2 linked regions of the Homo sapiens genome follow. The protein of the gene in region 2 interacts with the protein of the main gene of each other region in a pairwise test. Each region holds a gene or a part of one and is shown on either strand. Other genes may lie near its edges. The genes, in order: PEX1 and TBC1D22A.

The links.
Region 1: the proteins of TBC1D22A (region 2) and PEX1 interact in binary tests that used the Homo sapiens proteins (3 or more experiments, as listed by UniProt).

The regions. Positions count from the first base shown.
Region 1 is NC_000007.14:92,518,485-92,522,305, reverse strand, and holds part of PEX1 (peroxisomal ATPase PEX1), read left to right. Parts: intron 1-60; coding exon 61-204; intron 205-3,227; coding exon 3,228-3,311; exon of another isoform or gene 3,312-3,346; intron 3,347-3,821. UniProt on the Homo sapiens protein: Component of the PEX1-PEX6 AAA ATPase complex, a protein dislocase complex that mediates the ATP-dependent extraction of the PEX5 receptor from peroxisomal membranes, an essential step for PEX5 recycling.
Region 2 is NC_000022.11:46,786,393-46,790,213, reverse strand, and holds part of TBC1D22A (TBC1 domain family member 22A), read right to left. Parts: intron 1-3,821. UniProt on the Homo sapiens protein: May act as a GTPase-activating protein for Rab family protein(s).

The sequences.
Region 1 (3,821 bases), on a different chromosome or scaffold from region 2:
ATGTGAATCCAGAAAAATGTATACGAAAACCTTTTTTCCTCTCATTTCTTATATGAATAGAATCAAGCTATAGAAGTGGTCTGGAGTCACCAGCCTGCATTCTTGAGCTGGGTGGAAGGCAGGCATTTTAGTGATCAAGGTGAAAATGTGGCTGAAATTAACAGACAAGTTGGTCAAAAACTTGGACTCTCAAATGGGGGACAGGTAAGCACATGTGATGGCAATAACTTTCTTCTAATATCACATAATATAGCAATAGAAATAAAATTAAAAGTTTAGATTTTTTGTTAAAGGAGGTGAGATGTCACCTAATTTGTATGCTATTATGTAACTAGTCTAGGATATTGAAGCTGACTATACTCTGTTTTTAGGTCATTATCTTGTAGTTTACCATACTCCCTACTTGCTTCTTATTCTACTATTTAACTCATTTTCCACATCCCCTAATTTTGGTTTCATGAAATTATTTTTCCTTCTGAATTACTAGGTTCTACTTACTATTATTAAACTTTATTTCTGACATATTTTATAACCTTCCATGGTCTCACTTGATTAAAAATAAAAAATTCAGCTGGGTGCGGTGGCTCACACCTATAATCCCAGCACTTTGGGAGGCCAAGGTGGGCGGATAATTTGAGGTCAGGAGTTGGAGACCAGCCTGCCCAACGTGGTGAAACCCCCCCTCTCTACTAAAAATTCAAAAATTAGCTGGGCATGGTGGCAGGTGCCTGTAATCCCAGCTACTCAGGAGGCTGAGGCAGGAGAATTGCTTGAACCTGGGAGGTGGAGGTTGCAGTGAGCTGAGATTGCACTGCTGCACTTCAGCTGGGTGACAAGAGCGAAACAATGTCTTGAAAAAAAATAAAAAATAAAAAATTCTACAACACAGGGTTATTATTTTTCCATTTTTGTTTTCCCTTATGAGTTTAATATGTTTAGATTATAAACCTGAAAGCTTGAATACCTATGTCTATCTTTTGTTTTCTTATGTTTATCAAGTTATTCCTTTAAACATTTTCTAAACTGTAAGAATAATGTGAGGCTGGGCTCAATGGCTTATGCCTGTAATCCCAGTGCTTTGGGAGGCCAAGGTGGGAGGACCACTTGAGGCCACGAGTTCAAGATTAGCCTGGCTAGGCAACATAGCAAGACCCTATCTCTATAAAAAAATTAAAAAAATTAGCTGGGCATGGTAGCAAATGCTTGTAGTCCCAGCTACTCAGCAGACTGAGGTAGGAGGAATGCTTGAGACCAGGAATTTGAGTGACCTATGATTATGCACTCCAGCCCGGGCAATAGCAAGACCCTATCTCTTAAAAGAAGAAGATGTAGTAATAATACATATTCATTATAACTATTTTACCATTGAAAGTAAAAAATGAGTTTTTACCTTTTCCCAGTCCCATCCTCAGAATGGGGATCTCAGTAGACCTTTAGGATTGGAAGAATGAGATCATTCATATTTTCTGCAATTATTACCCCACAAAATATTTCAGATACCTTTCCATGTATTACAAACAATGTGCATTTAACATGTCTCTCTCTTTCTCTCTCTCTCTGTGTGCGTCTTCATGATCCTCTGTTGCAGCCCTGCCAGTAAGACACTATCTCCTGAAGAATCACTGATAGGAACAGAAAGTGGACTGGCTAGGCCAGGAGTCCTTAGCTTCTTAGGGGGCAGGAGCTGCTTTGTGCTTTCTCAGAATCAGATATATATGTGGACTGAAACATTTAAAAACAGAATAGCCAAGGGTGCTATACGTTTAAAACTTATATAGATGGGGCTACATTGCTCTCTATTACTAATTTCCCATGACAATACACGAGAGTGCCATGTCTTTTTAACTTGTTTTGAGCACAGACTAATCTTGTTTATGCATGTTTTTTGATGAGAATAGGCTACTCATGAGAAATCTGTAAACCTAACACTAGTCCCTTGCATACTCTAAATTGTTGCTAGAATCTTAAAATTTTAGCACCAGACGGACCTTAGAAATCATTAACTTTGGTGCTTTGTTCTACAATACAAGGAGATGGAATATTTTACCCAGGATTGCTTAGCAGGTTACAGTTCTGCCCTCTGAGTACCCAGCACTTCCCTGTGGGCAACATCAACTTCCTGATTTTCAAGTCTTAATTAGTACTCTGAAGAATCCTACTTGTTTTTAACTCCCATTTGCTTTGAAGTGACTTTACCTGATTTTTTTAGATCCCTTATTGCAGCAATGCCACTAAGAAACTGAGTCTCTAGCTTCTTGGTGGGCAGGAGCTGCTTTGTGCTTGCTCAGAATCATCCTTTTCAGTAAGGGAGATATTGAAGAGAAATCTACTGAGGAGTCTGGGGGTGAGGCACTCAGGGAAATCCTGCTCCAGTCCACAAAAGCAGAGAGGAAGGGTTGGTTACCTAGAGTATTTAACATGCAGAGGCTTTGGATTTTACTCCTTTAATCCTTGGAAATGCCTATGGAAGGGGAAAGGAAGTAAGATGGTGACTCCAGCTTATAGACATACTAGTGTTACATATATTTAAACTATAATAGGAGGGTATTATTAGTTTTACTTAACTTTCAACTGTGAAGGATTATACTTCTCAATATTTGTCTCCAGTGTCTATTTCAGTGTATTTTTCACTTTTCTTGAAGCAGCATGTCTGTTGCAAAACTTCTAGAAATAATGAGAATATTTATATATTAGATCAAGCCATAACTTGATGATATAGTCATTTCTTCTTATATTTTTTACTTACATTTTTACATTTTAATGATTACTTTCATTTTTGAAAAACATGTCATGCTGAGATGTATTTTTCTTCATTCTGTAATTAGTTATGAAACAGTTTTTCCTAAAATGCTGAGTATATCAAGTCTTGGCTAAGAATAAGTAATAAATATTTGCCACATGAAAGACTACACATATAGCCAGGTGCAGTGGCTTGCACCTGTTTTCCCAGCTACCCAGGAGGCTGAGGCAGGAGGATTGCTTGAGCCCAGGGTTTCCAGGCTGCAGTGAACTATGATTGTACCACTCTACTCCAGAATGGGTGACAGAGCCAGGCCCCATCTCTCAAAACAGAAAAGAAAGATTACATAGACTACATATACACCCCCATCCAAAACATACACACACATCTACTTAACCTAAAATGGTAAGAAGATAACTTCTTATTTTCTAATATATGACACAGAAAAGTTTTTTTAAAGTAGTTTTAAATTTTTAATTTTTTCTAGGTATTTCTCAAGCCATGTTCCCATGTGGTATCTTGTCAACAAGTTGAGGTGGAACCCCTCTCAGCAGATGATTGGGAGATACTGGTAAAGAAAACCAAATAAGAACTATCTCATTTAAGGTTAAATTACTTCACAATATCAATGTCTTTAGCTTTCTCTAAGCTTTATTATATATTCTGAGTTGGTTTTGAATTATAAGAATGAATTGGGGCCAGGCACAGTAGCTCATGCCTATAGTCCCAGCACTTTGGGAGGCCAAGGCAGGTGGATTGCTTGAGTCCAGGAGTTCAAGACCAGGCTGGGCAACATGGTGAAACCCCGTATCTACTAAAAATACAAAAATTAGCCAGGCATGGTAGTGCATGCCATTAGTCCCAGTCACTTGGGAGGCTGAGGCAGGAGAATCGCTTGAGCCCGTAAAGTCAAGGCTGCAGTGAGTCAGGATCTTGCCATTGTACTCCAGTCTGGAAAACAGAGTGAGACCTTGTCTCAAATAAAAAAAGAATGAATTGATAGAGATCTAATGTACAACCTGACAACTATAGGTAATAAAATTGTATTGGGGATTCATGTTAAATGAGTAGATTTTAACTA
Region 2 (3,821 bases):
GGCTTCCTGGAGCTGGAGAGAGCAGGGAAAACGCTCTCCCCTGGAGCTTCCAGAAGGAACCAGCCCCGCCAACACCTTGGTGTTAGCCCAGCGAGACCCACATCAGACTTGCAAATTCTAGAACTCTAGGATACCATGTTTGCTGTAAGCCAGTAAGTTTGTGATGATTTGCTAGAGCAGTCACAGAAAGACAATGGCGGTGGCCAATCTGTTTTCCTTGGTCTGGGAGGCTGAGCCACTCTTGTGTCCTTTCCTCGTGACTCCACTTTGGGGACGACACTTGGAAAGGCCTGACCCTTCTGAGAGTGCATAAACATTGCCGTGTGCTAGTTCAATCCTTCTAGAGGGCTCGTTCCTACCCTTAAGTTTTCAATCCACCTAGAATTTATTTTATTTTGCTATATAGTGTTTAGTAGGAAACTTTAAAAAAAAATAAAGAAGGGTTCAAATGTCATTTATTCAGTAACCTCTCCTTTCACCCACTGCTTTGAGAACATCATCTTTAACGTTAAAATATTACATTGGGTCATTTTTCAGTTTCCCACTCAGTTTCTATTCAGTATCCCATTCCTATGCCTGCAGCACAACATATTAATTATACCAAATGTTCACTTTTATATTCTAAGATTTTTCAGCAAAACTTGACAAACATTTTTTTGATACTGACTCTCGGACAGGGCACTGGGGAGGCAAAGGTAAGCACAACACATCCAAACTATTCCGGCCCTTACAGTTTACTCACAAAAGCAAAACTTCAACTGGCATTTTGACTGTTCTATGATGATTCCTACAAGAGCATGTCACAGGAGCACAGAAACCCAGTCTTATCGGGAGGCCGAGGCGGGCGGATCACGAGGTCAGGAGATCGAGACCATCCTGGATAACACAGTGAAACCCCGTCTCTATGAAAAATACAAAAAATTAGCCGGGCTTGGTGGCACGTGCCTGTAATCCCAGCTACTTGGGAAGCTGAGGCAGGAGAATGGCGTGAACCCAGGAGGCAGAGCTTGTAGTGAGCCGAGATTGCGCCACTGCACTCCAGCCTAGGCGACAGCGAGACTCTGTCTCAAAAAAAAAAAAAAAAGAAAAGAAGGAAGATTCCTTAAGAAAAAAAATCACACTTAGAACTAGGAAAAGTGGCTGGCAGAAGGTTGAGACAAACAAAACAGCACGTACCTGATCTGAAGGCCAGGAGCAGTGGAATCAGTGGGACATCAAAGTGGCAGCCAAGGGCCTGTCACCACAGCAAGCAGAAACATGAGCCCACACCCGGCCTTCCTTCAAAGGCCCAGGAGCCCAGTCCCACCCCTCACTCCACAGAGGAAGATTGGAAACCCAGAGAAGAGAAAGGAATTCAAAAGAGTCTGGCCCCTTGAAGGGTTTGTTATGACTTCTCCTTCCCAAAAAAAAGCCAATAAGGAGAAATATATGATTTCAGAAGAAAATTCTAAAGTCAGCATCCAGATGAAAACATCACATTTATTTCTGCATACATCAGAGTGAGTTTCAGTTTCAAACTGAAGATGACCTGAAAGCAAAGCGCTGATCCCTCCTCTCAACCAGGAAGGACCTACGAGGCAGGCACTGTCCTGGGTGCTGAGGACACAGACGCCCTGTGGCATGAACCACAGGCGGGTCCCAGTGGGGCTGGTGCTGGATACTTTTACCAAAGGAATGAAACACACAGAAAAGTGAAGGAACAGCCCTGTGACCACCATGCCACGTGCCACTGCTCAGCTCCAACCACTTTCAACAGCCTCCAGATTTGCTCAACATGCCGTTTCTTTTTTACTATCAATACTGCAAGCAATAAAGCATAGAGAATAATAGTAGTAGCTAACAGAGATGAGCATTATTTTAAACTCTCAATGTGTTAAGTCCTTTAATCTTTGCAACCCAATAAGGCAGATATCATTACTCTTCCCATTCAAAAGGTGGAAAAACTGAGGGACAGAAAGCTTAAGAAAGTAGCCTGCCTGGCCGGGCGTGGTGGCTCACGCCTGTAATCCCAGCACTTTGGGAGGCCGAGGCGGGTGGATCACGAGGTCTGGAGATCGAGACCGTCCTGGCTAACACAGTGAAACCCCGTCTCTACTAAAAATACAAAAAATTACCCGGTCGTGGTGGCGGACGCCTATAGTCCCAGCTACTTAGGAGGCTGAGGCAAGAGAATGGTGTGAACCCGGGAGGCAGAGCTTGCAGTGAGCCGAGATCACGCCCCTGCACTCCAACCTGGGTGACAGAGTAAGACTCCGTCCCAAAAAAAAAAAAAAAAAAAAAAGTAGCCTGCCCAAAGTCACCTACCCCTGGCAGGCTGCAGCCAGCTTAGTGACATATAGGACATAAGGAATAACCACACAGACACCACCCAGAGATTCACTTCCCCCAAATTCCAACATTTTGTCATATAATAGAGTTGAAACCCTCCCCATTCTGGTTCTCTACCTGCCTCCTCTGAGGTGGCTACCAACCTGTATTTGACATTTTCCATTTCCATGTAAGAGTTTATACTATTATGGAAGAGACGTGGATCTCTGGGCAACATACAGTATTATTCTGCACATTTGCAAAGTTTACACTGTTATCATTTCATACATATGTACCTTTGCAACTAGATGTTCCCTCAAGATTGTTCTTTATGTATCAATGTTAATGCACGCAGCTCCAGTTTTGTTCTGTGGGGTTTCACTGTATGAAAGCCAGTACTTTAGCAGTAAACCAACTTTTCAAAAGAAATGTTACATGGAAATGCCAAACAGGTAAAGGCAGAGCTACTCTGGTGAAGGGGAGACGCAGGAGCCGCCACATGCACTGGCCGGGCCACTCGACAGAAAGAGAGGAGAGGCAACTCCCAGAACCATAGCAGGACTCCACGGAGACACAGAAAGCTGCTGGTCTGGTTGTTTCCTTAAATATAAGGAAAATGAACAAAACCAAGAGATGGTTCTCTGAGTAGATGAATAAAATTGACAAACCTTTGGCTAGACTGACTAAAAGAAAAAAGAGAAGACTTAAATTACTAAAGTCAGACATGATGGAAAAGACATTATTATCAACCTTACAGAAATAAAAAGAATTATGAGAATATTATGAACAACTGTACACCAACAAATAAAATTAATTAGATACAATGCGCAAATTCCCAGAAAGATACACACAACTGAAACTTACTCAAGGAGCAGGAGGAAATATGACTAGATACATAACATGGAAAGAGGCTGAATTAGAGGCCGGGCACACTGGCTCACGTTTGTAATCAAGCACTTTGGGAAGCCAAGGTGGGAGGATCACTTGAACCCCAGGAGTTCAAGACCAGCCTGGCCAACAAAGCAAGACCTCATCTATTAAAAACCAAAAAACTAGTGGGCATGGTGGCACACACCTGTAGTCCCAGCTACTCAGAAGGCTGACGTGGGAGGATCACTTGAGCCCAGGAATTTGAGGTTACAGTGACCTATGACGGCACTACTGCGCTTAAGTGTGGGCAACAGAGCAAGATCCTGTCTCAAAAAAATAAAAAATAAAAATAAAGAGACTAAATTAGTAATCAAAACACTACGCACAAAGAAAAGTCCAAGCCCAGAGGGATTCACTGGTAAATTCTACCAAATAGATAAAGAAGAATTAATACCAATTCTTCATAAATCCTTCCAAAACCTAGAAAAGGAGGTAATATTTCCCAACTCATTCTATGAGGCAAGTACTACCGTGATACCAAAATCAAGCAAAGATATCACAAAGAAAGAAAACTACAAACCAGTATCTCTTATGAATATACACGTAAAAACCCAAAATACTAGCAAACCAAATCCAACAACACA